Homo sapiens: one gene and its partners. The protein of the gene in region 1 purifies or fractionates together with the protein of each later gene. This does not show direct contact. Each region holds a gene or a part of one and is shown in the gene's direction. Other genes may lie near its edges.

What was found.
Region 2: the proteins of CWC25 (region 1) and KCTD3 purify together in Homo sapiens (affinity purification with mass spectrometry, with the first as the bait; one large-scale study listed by BioGRID). This does not show direct contact.
Region 3: the proteins of CWC25 (region 1) and DHX8 purify together in Homo sapiens (co-immunoprecipitation; one large-scale study listed by IntAct). This does not show direct contact.
Region 4: the proteins of CWC25 (region 1) and KIF13B purify together in Homo sapiens (affinity purification with mass spectrometry, with the first as the bait; one large-scale study listed by BioGRID). This does not show direct contact.

What each region holds. Positions count from the first base shown.
Region 1 is NC_000017.11:38,808,322-38,811,821, reverse strand, and holds part of CWC25 (pre-mRNA-splicing factor CWC25 homolog), read left to right. Parts: intron 1-1,226; coding exon 1,227-1,354; exon of another isoform or gene 1,355-1,546; intron 1,547-2,056; coding exon 2,057-2,120; intron 2,121-3,500. UniProt on the Homo sapiens protein: Involved in pre-mRNA splicing as component of the spliceosome.
Region 2 is NC_000001.11:215,573,804-215,577,303, forward strand, and holds part of KCTD3 (BTB/POZ domain-containing protein KCTD3), read left to right. Parts: coding exon 1-36; intron 37-263; exon of another isoform or gene 264-269; coding exon 270-315; intron 316-2,097; coding exon 2,098-2,171; intron 2,172-3,500. UniProt on the Homo sapiens protein: Accessory subunit of potassium/sodium hyperpolarization-activated cyclic nucleotide-gated channel 3 (HCN3) up-regulating its cell-surface expression and current density without affecting its voltage dependence and kinetics.
Region 3 is NC_000017.11:43,500,975-43,504,474, forward strand, and holds part of DHX8 (ATP-dependent RNA helicase DHX8), read left to right. Parts: intron 1-3,500.
Region 4 is NC_000008.11:29,074,571-29,078,070, reverse strand, and holds part of KIF13B (kinesin-like protein KIF13B), read left to right. Parts: intron 1-2,727; coding exon 2,728-2,790; intron 2,791-3,500. UniProt on the Homo sapiens protein: Involved in reorganization of the cortical cytoskeleton. Regulates axon formation by promoting the formation of extra axons. May be functionally important for the intracellular trafficking of MAGUKs and associated protein complexes.

The sequences.
Region 1 (3,500 bases):
GTTCCTGTGACACAGAATGGAAACTCCTAGGCAGTGGTTTTGGTGACTGTTTAAAAACACAAATTCTTAGTCTCACCTACCAGATACCAGTTCAGTAGTTGGGGGTGTTAGTGCACGGCCAGGGTTAAGACCCTTCCCCTGGTGTGTTGACAGGGAACCCCTATAATGTCCTGGACTTCTGTAGACCCAGAGGCATGGAGTCAGGCAGTTTGTGCATGAGCCACGCCCCTCAAAGGAGACTGATAGGGGTCTCAGTAATCTTTTTTTTTTTTTTTTTTTTTGAGACGGAGTCTCGCTCTGTTGCCCAAGGTGGAGTGCAGTGGTGCAGTGACACGATCTTAGCTCACTGCAAACTCCGCCTCCCAGGTTCATGCCATTCTCCTGCCTCAGCCTCCTGAGTAGCTGGGACTACAGGCGCCTGCTACCATGCCCAGCTAATTTTTTGTATTTTTAGTAGTGATGGTGTTTCACCGTGTTAGCCAGGATGGTCTCCTTCTCCTGACCTTGTGATCCACCCGCCTTGGCCTCCCAAAGTGCTGGGATTACAGGTATGAGCCACCCCGCCTGGGCTTTTTGTTTTTTTTTAATGAGATGGAGTCTCACTCTGTCGCCCAGGCTGCTGGAGTGCAGTGGCGTGATCTCAGCTCACTGCAACCTCTGCCTCCTGGGTTCAAGTGATTCTTCTGCCTCAGCCTCCCGAGTAGCTAGAACTACAGGTACACACCACCACACCCAGCTAATTTTTGTATTTTTAGTAGAGATGGTCTTTCACCATATTGGCCAGGGTGGTCTCGAACTCCTGACCTTGTGATCCTCCCACCTCAGCCTCTCAAAGTGCTGAGAGATTACAGGCGTGAGCCACCATGCCCAGCCAGTAATCTTTTTTTTTTTTTTTTTTTTTGAGACACAGTTTCACTCTGTCACCCAGGCTGAAGTGCAGTGGCACAATCTCGGCCCACTGCAACCTCTGCCTCCTGGTTCAGGTGATTCTTGTACCTCACCTCTCAAGTAGCTGGTATTACAGGTGCCCACCACCACACCCAGCTGATTTTTGTATTTTTAGTAGAGATGGGGTTTTGCCATGTTGGCCAGGCTGGTCTCGAACTCCGGACCTCAAGTGATGATCTGCTCCACTCAGCCTCCCAAAGTGCTGGGATTACAGGCATGAGCCACTGCGCTGGCTGGTCTCAGTAATCTTGTGTGCTTGTGTTCTCGGCATTTTCCAGTTGCAAATGAGTCTGGAAAAAAAGGAGAAGAAGAAAAAGAAGGAGAAGAAAAAGAAGCACAAGAAACATAAGCACAGAAGCTCGAGTAGTGATCGTTCCAGCAGCGAGGATGAGCACAGTGCAGGGAGGTGAGCATGTGGCGACTGGCCTCCCTTCTCGTTGATTCACTTGCTCATTCACTCATTCATTCCACAGACATGAACACCTGCCCTGTGCTGGAAGCTGCCAGGTACTGGGCATTCAGTGATGAACACTTGAACATGGGCCCAGTGCCCACAGAGCTTGCCATCTAATGCTAGAGTTCCTTGGAGATGCTAAATGTGAGTGGGTATCTTGGCCATGCTGCTGGAGAGAGACCCTTAATAATGCTGACTTTAGCCTAGTAGGTCTTAGGTAGGTCAGACATCCTGGGGGTGACTCTGTTTCATCTCAGCTTAGGATTCCTTCAAGACTGAAGTGGGCTTTATATAGGCTTTTTTTAATGGACTGATGGCTGATGTGGGCCCATTTTGCATGTCTTCCTGTGGAAGCAGTCAGCTCCGCCGCTGCTGAGTCACTATTTGTCCCTGGAATAGCAGCATGAAGTGAGAGGAGAAGGTGTTCAGGCGTTGGGGCTTAGAAGCGAGGCCCACAGTTTTTCACAGGAAAATTTGATTGTGCTGATGCATTTTTCGGCATAGACAGTCCAAATAGAGAAACGTACTGCCAGGTAACTGCTGGGAGGCGGAAAGGTCACATTGGAGGCAAGAAGCATAGTTCAGCATAAGATATTTAAATTGGACCTATATATATTTTCTTTTTCAATGAGTGTGTGTATTTTGATCTCTTAGATCACAGAAGAAGATGGCAAATTCCTCCCCTGTTTTGTCCAAAGTCCCTGGATATGGCTTACAGGTAGGGATGTGGGCTTCTTGAAAGGAGTGACTGTGGGACTGTGGGATGTGCCACTTGGACAATGTGGATAGCAGGGAGGTGGGCAGTGAAGCCTGGGCTGCTGGGAAACAGGCCCATTCTTATCGCTGAGCACCTTCTTGTGGCTGATGACCCTCTGAGCAGAGAGACTAAACCACCAATGGGGCATTGAGACATTCTACCCATCCCTCTACAAATAATTTACATGAAATGCACACATTTTAAGTGTATAGGTTTTTTTGTTTTTTTTTTTTTTTGAGACGGAGTCTCGCTTGTCACCCAGGCTGGAGTGCAGTGGCGCGATCTCGGCTCACTGCAACCTCTGCCTTCCGGGTTCAAGCTATTCTCCTGCTTTAGCCTCCCGAGTAGCTGGGATTACAGGCGCCCACCACCACGCCCGACTAATTTTTGTATTTTTAGTAGAGACAGGGTTTCGTCATGTTGGCCAGGATGGTCTTGAACTCCTGACCTCAGGTGATCCCTCCGCCTCGGCCTCCCAAAGTGCTGGGATTACAGGTGTGAGCCACCGTGCCTGGCCTAAGTGTGTAGGTTGATGATTTTTGACAAACATAAATCTGCTGGGTTCTTTTTTTTTTTTTTTGAGTAGCAGTGCATCATTATTTTGCCTAGGCTGGTCTCGAACTCCTGAGCTTAAGCAATCTTCTGAGTAGCTGGAAGTACAAGTTCAAGGCACCTGGCTTGACTTCTGTATTTCTGTATTTTTTTTTTTTTTTTTTGAGGTGGAGTTTTGCTCTTGTTGCCCAGGTTAGAGTGCAATGGCGCGATCTCAGCTCACCACAACCTCGACCTCCTGGGTTCAAGCAATTCTCCTGCCTCAGCCTCCCGAGTAGCTGGGATTACAGGCATGCACCACCATGCCCGGCTAATTTTGTATTTTTAGTAGAGACAGGGTTTCTCCATGTCAACCAGGCTGGAGTGCAATGGTGCAATCTCAGCTCACTGCAACCTCTGCCTCCTGGGTTCAAGCGATTCTCCTGCCTCAGCCTCCTGAGTAGCTGGGATTACAGGCACCTGCCATCACACCTGGCTAATTTTTGTATTTTTAATAGAGACAGGGTTTCTCCATGTTCGTCAGGCTGGTCTCAAACTCCTGGCCTCAAGCTATCCGCCTGTCTCGGCCTCCCAAAGTGCTGGGATTATAGGCGTGAGCCACCATGCCTGGCCTCATATTTCTGTATTTTTAACCTTGGGTCCTGTCCTCCATGCTTCTGCATCTCGCTCTTCCTTAACCTATAGTGAAGAGCTAAGCCAGGTGTATTCTTTTCTTTCTTTTTTTTTTTTGAGAGGGAGTCTCGCTCTGTCGCCCAGGCTGGAGTGCAATGGTGCGATCTCGGCTCACTG
Region 2 (3,500 bases), on another chromosome or scaffold:
AACTCTTATGTGGATTCCAGATTCTTTTTTTTCCAGGTATGTCTTATAATTCTTTAGTGTATATTTTAATACATTTATTTACCAAAATATAATAATGTTTGTCAGTTAAATTTTTTTTAATAAAAAAGGTTAACTCTTAAAATTATATATTTTTGAACTTGGAAGATAGATAACTTACTTTTAGTGGTCTTTAACATTTGGTAAAGAATTAGCACATTTGTTTATACTCAGATTTTAAAAACTAACTTTAGATTATTAATGACTTCCAGTTTGCTGAGTGGGAGAATTTCAACACTTCGAGATGAAACTGGTGCTGTGAGTATAATAATAATTGATACATATTCCTAAATTAATGCTTATAGTGCTTGGTCCTAACATATAGTTACTCTAAGAATATAGGAGAACTGATATTTTAATAATCACTGAATGAAAGTGGCATAATTTTATTTCTTGTCATATGTAGTTTTTTATAATCAGAGAAGATCCCTAAGTAGGGAATACTATATATGGCAATTTAAGTATTCATGATTAGAGAGATTGTAGGATATGAGCTTACATTGGCATTAGAAGAAATTTTTTTAGATCAATAATTGAAACTTTAACAGTAAGTGGATAAATGTAAATATTCTAATATTTTTATATTAGAATATAAGAGGTTAAATTAGTAAACTCCTACAGTTTTTTATTTTATTTTGGAGAATAACCTTGCGAATTTGTTTATACAGCATTGGTACAGTGAGGGAAGGAAAGAATTGTAAAGTTTCAGTGCAAAAAAATTGGTTTATCCATTTGGAGGCAACAAAGTGACCAATGGTATTTATTTGCTGTGGTGAGATTTGCAGATGAAATAAGGCAACAAATGCAGATATGTCCATGTGAAATTATAAAAAGTTATCAATAATAAGATCTCCACAAATCTGTGATGTCTCTTCGATTTTTGATGTGCTCTAATGAAAACAAAAGAAAATTTATAAAGCTTAGAAGAATCTCATTGATTGTATATATATAGTTGATCATAGTAGGAAGAGTTTTATTACTGGCTGCCATTTCCCTTTCTAATTGATTTACATAAGCTTTAAAAGATGTTCCGTTTTTATGGCCAGATCTTTTGTAAATGATTCAAAATAGGTGTTGGTATAAATTTCCATAAAAAGTTATCAATTATGGGCTGGGTGGGGTGGCTTATGCCTGTAATTCCAGCACTTTAGGAGGTCGAGGCAAGTGGATTACCTGAGGTCAGAAGTTCAAGACCAGCATGGCCAACATGGTGAAACCCCCTCTCTACTAAAAACAGAAAAATTAACCCGGCATAGTGGCAGGTGCCTCTAATCCCAGCTACTCAGGAGGCTGAGGCAGGAGAATTGCTTGAACTTAGGAGGTGGAGGTTGCAGTGAGCCCAGATCGTGCCACTGCACTCCAGCCTAGATGAGAGAGCAGGATGCTGTCTCAAAACAAACAAACAAACAAAAGTTACCAATTATGTATTTTACATTTTTAAGCAATTTGTTTTCCTCTTATGTATTCTGTGGTGCTTTAGTTTAAAAAAAAAAAATTGTCATTACCTTTCCCCAGCTCTGAAGGAAATTGAGATTAGTAAAAGTATTATGAGAATAGTATTCTTTTCCACTTTTGACAGCAGTGTGCAGTATTTACTTTTCTCAAGTACCCCTGTGTGCATTATTAAAGTACATTGTAGTTTTAATGATTGAACAGTATAAGAAAGTATTATTTATTCATGTTTTCGAAGTATTAATTGAATTCTAGACTGTTTCAGATAAAAATGTTTCCTCAGGTGTCACTTTTACCAAAGGTATCAATACAAGTGATTTTATTAGACAAGATTTTTTCTATGTATTAAAATATCAGTTTAATAATAACTATTCAGAGGAAGAAAAAGACACCATCTCAAGAAAAAGACACCATCTCATGAAATGCACACAGACTACATTCCAATTTTAGAAACATTAAAGTTTAAGAGTGGAAACAAGGAAATGTAGTATTTAAGTAATTAAGACTTCATTCCCTATTAGTGTTACAGATATTAAAGTTAAAAGATTAATTTGTAATTTGAAAATAAAACTGTTCTCTTTTTTACAGATATTTATTGATAGAGATCCAGCAGCATTTGCACCCATTTTAAATTTTCTTCGGACAAAAGAACTAGACTTAAGGTAAGAAATGCACTCTTTTTAAAGTAAATTCTTACTGATAAATATGTGTTTTTAATATGTTTTATGAAATAAAAGGTTTTTTTTGTTTGTTTTTTTTTTTCCTTGAGTTGCAGTCTTGCTCTGTTGCCCAGGCTGGAGTGCAGGAGTGCAGTGGCATGATCTCTGCTCACTGCAACCTCCGCCTTTCAGGTTCAAACAATTCTCCTGCCTCAGCCTCCCGAGTAGCTGGGACTGTAGGCACATGCCACCATGCCCGGCTGATTTTTTGTATTTTAGTAGAGAAGGGGTTTCACTGTGTTGCCCAGGCTGATTGCAAACGCCTGAGCTCAGGCAGTCTCCCCGCCTTAGCCTCCCAAAGTGCAGGGATTACAGGAATGAGCCACTACGCCCAGCCAGAAAAGGTTTTTTTTTTTTTACTAAGACTTTGATTAAAAGTTTCCTCACACTGAAACTGGATGTGGTGGTACACGCCTATAATCCCAGCTACTCTAGAGAAGAAGCTGAGGCAGGAGGATCCCTTGAGGCCGGGAGTTTGAGGCTGCAGTGAGTTATGATCATGCCTCTGGCCAGTACTGCTGTACTGTTAACACAAATAGTTTCGAAATAGAATAAGAAAGTTTGAAGCTTTTTTTTTTTGAGACTGAGTCTTACTCTGTCACCCAGACTCACTGCAATCTCCACCTCCCGGGTTCACGCCATTCTCCTGCCTTAGCCTCCCAAGTAGCTGGGACTACAGGCACCCGCCACCACACCCGGCTAATTTTTTTGTATTTTTAGTAGAGATGGGGTTTCACCGTTTTAGTCATGATGGTCTCCATCTCCTCACCTCGTAATCCACCCGCCTTGGCCTCCCAAAGTGCTGGGATTACAGGTGTGAGCCACCGCCCCCAGACACAAAGTTTTAAGCATTTTTAATGTTAAACTAGTCATAACCAGTTTCACAAATAAAAACAATTTAACATAGTAATTGTATATATTTATCAAGGCTGGGGAATATTTTTAAAATAAGGACAAATTACAACTGAAACCTAAGATGAATTATTAGTATTATAAGTTCTGAATCTTCCATTTTTTAAAAATTTTATTTCATGTTACTTAACTTTACTACTATGAAGTAGCATCATTTCATCTGGATAACATAGCCCTTCCCAAGGCTAGTCTTTTTTTTTTTTCTATTTTATTTGTTCAACAAATATTTATTACATAACTATTTTATACAAGCACTATGCTAGGCACTGTGAGGTATACAAACATAGATCAGAAATAGATCATGCTCGCAGGGAATTTATAGTGTAATTGGGGAGATTAAGATAGATATGTATAGAAATA
Region 3 (3,500 bases), 4.7 Mb from region 1:
TGCAGTAAATATTAGCTACTAGATATAGTCATAACAAATACTTATTAATTTAATTTGTGTTTGGCAACTGGGGATACGATTTGAATTAAACAGATATGATCCCTGCTTTTATGCGCTACAACTTAGTCGGGGATATGGATATTAATTAAATAATCACCAAATAATTAAATTATGATCAGTGCCATGTGAAGAAGTACAGGCAGTGTAATTGACTGTGGTGGGTCACTTCCCTGGGGAAATCGAGACCCAAAGGATAAATTGGACTCAGTCTGTCAAGTGGAGATGGGATGGAGGTTGGGGAGTATGTTCCAGCCTGAGGAGTAGCCCGTGTTGGGTTTGTGGGGTGGGAAAGAAGGAACTGAAAGAAGGCTTGTGTGGATGGAATAGAGAGAGCAGTGGGCAGTGGTAGGGGATGAGATAAGAACATCAGGCCAGGGCTTTGTAGGTGGCATTAGGAAGCTGGGCTCAATTCTAATAGCACTGGGAGATGTTGAAAAGTTCTTTTGTTGTTGTTGTTTTTGTTTCTGAGACAGAGTTTTGCTCTTGTTGCCTAGGCTGGAGTGCAACACCATGATCTTGACTCACTGCAACCTCCACCTCCCTGGTTCAAGTGATTCTCCTGCCTCAGACTCCCAGGTAGCTGGGATTACAGGCATGCACCACCACGCCTAGCTAATTTTTTGTATTTTTAGTAGAGACGAGGTTCCTCCATGTTGGTCAGGCTGGTCTCGAACTCGCGACCTCAGGTGATCCCCCCCCCATCTCAGCCTCCCAAAGTGCCGGGATTACAAGTGTGAGCCACCGTGCCCAGCCAGATGTTGAAAGTTTGCAGCTGGCACATGGCATGACCAGAGTTGCATTTCCAAAGGATGATTGAGGGTGCCCTGCAGAATGAGTTGGATGGGGCACATGTGATGATTTAGAAAGCTTTTATGAAGAGAGAGAATGGTGGCTTGAACATGGAGGTAGCAAAGAGGAGGGATGTACTTGAGAAAAGTAATTTGTTGAATGTGGGGCAACAGGAATGGTCAAAGATGACTTCCAGGTTTCTGGTATGAGCACTAGGATGAATGATGGGAACACTGGAGGAGAAATGGGTTTGTGGGGAAAGATGGTCAAATTCCGTTTTGGACTTGTGTCCGAGGCAACTAGAGGACATCTTAGGTTGAGGTATCCAGTGTAGAATTGAGTATAAGAGCTCAGAAGAGAGGTCTGGGCTGGAGACAGAAGTTTGGGAATTGTGTTAATTTAGATATCAGTTTGGCTGCATGTAATAGAGATTCAAATATTAGATTAGGTTCGGCATGATGGCTCACGCCTGTAATCCCAACACTTTGGGAGGCCGAGGCAGGAGAATTGCTTGAGGCCAGGAGTTCAAGACCAGTCTGGGCAACATAGTAAGACCTTATCTGTATTTTATTTTATTTTGTTTTGTTTTGTTATTTTAGTTTAGTTTAGTTTAGTTTTTGAGATGGAGTCTCACTATGTTGCCCCAGCTGGAGTGCAGTGGTGCAGTCTTGGCTCACTGCAACCTCTGCCTCCTGGGTTCAAGCGATTCTCCTGCCTCAGCCTCAAGTAGCTGGGACTACAGGTGACCGCCACCACGCACGAGTAATTATTTTGCATTTTTGGTAGAGACAGCGTTTCACCATGTTGGTCAGGCTGGTCTCGAACTTCTGACCTCAAATGATCTTGCCCACCTTGGCCTCCCAAAGTGCTGGGATTACTGGTGAGCCACCGTGCCTAGCCCTTGTCTCTATTTTAAAATTAAATTTTTAAAAACGACAAAAATAAAAACCAAAATATTAGATTTACAGTAGAAGGTTGGACATATTCGTTCATTGTTTAACAATATCATCTTCCATTTCCTCAGAATAAACCCATTCATTCCCTTTTACCCTTTAGTGAAATGTTCTCCATGACCCTCCTTTGGCCTCTGCCTAAGCTCACTTATTTGGTTAGTAGGCATAAGTATTTTTTCGTAGCCAGCTTTTGGCATCAAATTTGTAAAATGTTTGCATATGCTAGAGAGCCACTAAAATTCTGCTCATTTTTTTTTGCTCCTCAAGCCACAATTCCAAGGTGAATCTTGAAAATATAAGCTAGGTCTGGGCAAGGTGGCTCACACCTGTAATCCCAGCACTTTGGGAGGCTGAGGCAGACAGATCACTTGAGTTGGGGAATTTGAAACCAAGCTGGGCAATGTGGTGAAACCCTGTCTCTAAAAAAATACAAAAATTAGTCCAGGCATGGTGGCTCATGCCTGTAATCCCAGCAGTTTGGGAGGCTGAGGCGGGTGGATCACCTGAGGTCAGGAGTTTGAGACCAGCCTAGCCAACATAGTGAAACCCCATCTGTGCTAAAAACAGAAAAATTAACAGATGTGGTGGCACGCACCTGTAATCCCAGCTGCTAGGGAGGCTGAGGCAAGAGAATCACTTGAACCTGGGAGGCGGAGGTTGCAGTGAGCCGAGATCACGCCATTGCACTCCAGCCTGGACAACAATTGCGAAACTCCATCTAAAAAAAAAAAAAAAAAGTTTAGCCGTGTGTAATCACGTGCACCTGTATTCCCAGCTACTCAGGAGGCTAACGTGGGAGGATTGCTTGAGCCCAGGAGGTGGAGGTTGCTGAGCTGAGATCTCGCCACTGCACTCCAGCCTGCTGGGCGTCTGAGCCAGACCCTGTCTCAGAAAAAGAAAAAAATTAATCTGAGAGAAACCAGGCACAACAGACCACATATTGTATGAAGTATCCAGAATAGAACCCGTAGACATAGAAAGTAGACTAATGGTTGCCAAGGGAAAGGAAAAGGGAGGAATGGGGAGTAACTGCTAATGGGTACAGGGTTTCTTTCTGATATGATGAAAATACTCTAAATAGTGGGGATAGTTGCACAACTTAATGAATATACAGTAAAACACTGAGTTAAACACTTAAAAAGAGTAACACGGAGACCTGGCTTGGTGGCTCATACCTGTAATCCCAGCACTTTGGGAGGCCAAGGAGAGAGGATTCCTTGAACCCAGGAATTTGAGGCTGCAGTGAGCCGTGATTGCGTCACTGCACTCCAGCCTGGGAAACAGAGCAAGACCCTGTCTCAAAAAAATAAAATAAAATAAAAAAAGTGTAACATGGTTTGTGAATTACATCTCGATATAGCAGTTATTTAAAAAGGGGAGAGTGCTGCGCATGGTGGCCATACCTGTAATTCCATTACTTTGGGAGGGTGAGATGGGTGGATTGCTTTAGCCCAGGAGTTCGAGACCAGCCTGGCAACATAGAGTGACCTCTTCTCGCTTGAGCCCAGAAGGTCGGGGCTGCAGTGAGTCAGGATTGCACCACTGCACTCCCACTTGGATGACAGAGCAAGACCCTACCTAAAAAAAAATAATTCCAGTGTCAAGCAGTCAGGTCTTCACTTCTCTCAACTAACCTTTTTTCTGACATCACAGGTGTGTAGCACCACTTGTTACAGTCTCTTTCCCATTCCCTGCTGC
Region 4 (3,500 bases), on another chromosome or scaffold:
CCTCAGGTGATCCTCCTGCTGCGGCCTCCCAAACTGCTGGGATTATAGGCGTGAACCACCGTGCCTGGCCTCCTCTCTGCTTTTGAAGCTTCCACTCCACTGTCACCTTCCTTGATTTTAGTGATTTGCTTATGTGTTCCCCACCAATCAGGTTGCCCATCTGTTGAGAGCAAAGCCCATGCCTCTGATGCTGATGTTGCCTGAGGCACCTGGTGCCACGCCCCCCGCATGGTAGGACCTGGTGCAGTCTCTGTTGAGCTGAACTTTTTTACATGGAGAGTGAGAACCAAAGTGGCAGTCAGTCGAGTCCCTGAATCCATTTCAGCAAATATTTAATAAGCATCTATCTACTGGGTTTTTCTAATCACACTGGGTCCTGAAGGAAAGTGTAACTTGTTTGCATGTTCTATTTCAGAGGGCAGGAATCATGTGATTTTAGAAAAGGTTTCATGTTAGGCGCTTAACATCCCATCCTTGGGGTATTTGCATTTTTAGGCTTTAAGGGGAATAAACTTCACCTTTGTGGAAACAGTTGTTCCCCAATCTTGTCCACTTTAGGTAAGATGTAGTGAAGAATGCAAGTATTTTGGAGTTTGAGAAATGTTTTTTCTGCTTTTGTCATGAAATATACCCTTGAACACCTTCCCATTTGTGGGGACGTTAAATACTATAGGCAGAAAAATGAAGATACGAGCCCTGGCATGCGAGGACTGCGTGGCAGTGTGGGACGCGTGCTTGAGCCTCACTTTCTTCTCTGGGAGATGGCGGTAGGCGGGGCCGTGGAGAGCAGTAGTGGGACAGAAGGAGCTGAGTGCTGGGAGGGGCGCAGAGGGGAGACTGTTCTGGTCAAGGAATTGAGGTGGAGGCTGAAGGTCTTGTTCTTCAGGCCTTGTCATGTGCAATGGCCTAACTGCCACCAGGGGACCCTCCCTCATTCTGTCCCATTGGCTGCTCACATAATCTTTAATGCACCCTGGTCCTAGCTGTCCTGGGCCTCAGACCACCCCAGGAACTCCCTAGTGGTTGCAGTGTAAAGTACACATTCCTTTTGTTCATTTCCTTGGTCCTTCCACCTTATTTTCTTTTTTTCTTCTTTGACACAGGGTCTTGCTTTGTTGCCCAGGGTGGAGTGTGGTGGTGTGATCATAGCTCACTGCAGCCTCCAACTCCTGGGCTTAAGTGATTCTCCTGCCTCAGCCTCCTGAGGAGCTGGGACTGCAGGTGTGCACCACCACATCTGGCTCCAGTCCTTCCAGGTCTTTAAGCCTGATCGCTGCGTTTCCTCTCGAGTCCTCTCCACTGCACCTTTTCTCAAATCCTGCCAGTGCCCCCTTACCTTCTGTGGAATCAATTCCCTCTTATACTTTTCTTCCAAAAGCAGCCCCAAGGCACGAGTGGTCATAGTGGTGCCCTCAGGTGAAGCGAGGCTATTCCATGCTTGTAAACATGGTGAGCACCCTGCTGAGCGGGCTGGCTTCTTCGGGACTCTTCTCCCTACAGCTGGAGTCCAGGCTCCCCAGTAGGAAGGAAGGCCTGGGCGGTGTGGCTCGCGCCTGCAGGCTCTGTCTAGAAGGCCTGACTCCATCGAGGCCTCAAGTGCCCAGACGCACAAGAGCCAAAGCACCAGGACTGCCGAGGGCTGGGAGAAGGGAGGTGGGAGACGTGGAGTCCACATCTCTGGGCAGTTAAAGTTCAGTAACCGAGCAGCCACCAGCTGTGCCCTGTGGACCCAACAAGAAAGAAGCCCTACCCGCGGCTGTCCTGGCAGAATGGAGCCCTCATGAGAGCCCAGCATGGGAGGCCAGGCCTGGTTCCTGCAGTCGGGTAGGGGGAGGGGGAGGGGCAGAAGTGGCATGTTCCCAGCTTCTTCTGGGATGAGCACATCTGCTCGGCTGCTTCTGTGTCCCACAGCCACTCCGCAGCAACAGAATGATGCTCTGGTTCCTTCTCTCCCCGAGGCTTCCCTTTTCCTGGCTCTGATGATTCTTAACTCTGTCTCTTTAATGTTCCCTGGCCCATGTGTCCACAAGTAACCAGGCCCTTTCCTGTGGCTCTTACCTCCTCCCCCTGCTCTGTCACTGGAGTTGCATTACTGATCTGCCTCTTTGGACTTTAAATATTCTTCCGGTCATGTTGTGTCCCCACCCGGACAGTGTCTCTGGCCTTCAGCTGTCTTCTTGCTTTGCTCAGGACTCAGTGGGGACCCCCTTCCTCTCCTGAGTAGGGTTAGTTTCCGATGCCCAGGGCCTTCTGCAGACCTGTGCCTGCCATCTTGGGCTCTGGGTTTGTGCTCCAGCCAGCCTGGCCTCCTTCCTCCTCCCCTCCTGTGACTACACTCCTTCCTCTCCCCAGCCATCAGAGCCTGGCATGGCTTTCACCTCCTGCCGGAAGTCTTTCTGTATCTTTCCTGTCTCATAATGCTTGTCTGTACAGGCCCAGTCCTCGGTTCACATGTGCATATGTGATTGGAGGGAGGGAGAGAGCGTCGTGTGTGTAAGTGCACCATGTGTGTTGGTGATCTTGGCATGTGGCCTGTTTCCCTGGCTGGGGGAGGAGCCCCTTGCTGGGTCCCTTGTTCCTTGGAGGGTGTGGAGCCCCTCACACTCGCACACCTGATGGGCCGATTCCCCTCGGGCAGGTCCTGGCCCTCCAGCCTGTGCAGCGGAAACCTTTCTGCTACCCCTGTTCTGTCCTCTCGACCCCTGACCTGCACACTTGCCTCCTCAGCCCGTGCCCCGCATCATGGTGCAGTCAGCCAGCCCGGACATCAGGGTGACCAGGATGGAGGAGGTGAGTCTGTTGGGTCACGGGTGGCCACCCCACCTACAGCGAGCAGGTGGCCCTGATGCCGAAACTGTTGAGTCCACACCCACAGTTTTTGATGTTAGCATTCCTGTTTTGGTAATTAGTTATAATATAGGTCACTGCCTTCTCCCTCTCTATTTTCCTTGTTATACTTTTCTATTTTCAACTTGTTAATCATATGATTGCTAAACTTTTAGGTGCTTGACTGCTAATGTAGTCTGCTGCCTTAATAGCCCACAGCTAGGCAGAGGAGATTTCTATAAACAGAACAATCTCCTTCTTCTAAATGTTTGCTTAATTCTCAGTTTTACATTTCATTCTGATTCATGATATCAGCGTGAAAAGACGAATGCTAAGCTGTGGAGAAAATAGTCTCTTATAATCTCCCACAGATCAACAGCACTTCTAATCTTATGAATAGCAAATCTATTTTCTCCCACTGCGCTTTCATTCTCTTAGGAAATGCTGTATCTTCTTAGGAAAATTTTCTTTATTAAAACAACAGCAACAGAGGCACAATCATTAGAAAGAATATTCAGATCTCCGTGAATTTACTTCTATCTGAATGACCTTTTTACCCCAGTGCACACTGGGCATTCACGAATTTGCTGTGGCCGGGATCGGGGTGCCCCCTCCCCTGGGAATGGTGCCGGTCTCTTCTCTGAGGCAGGTTTGAGTGTCCCTGGTCAGCAGGA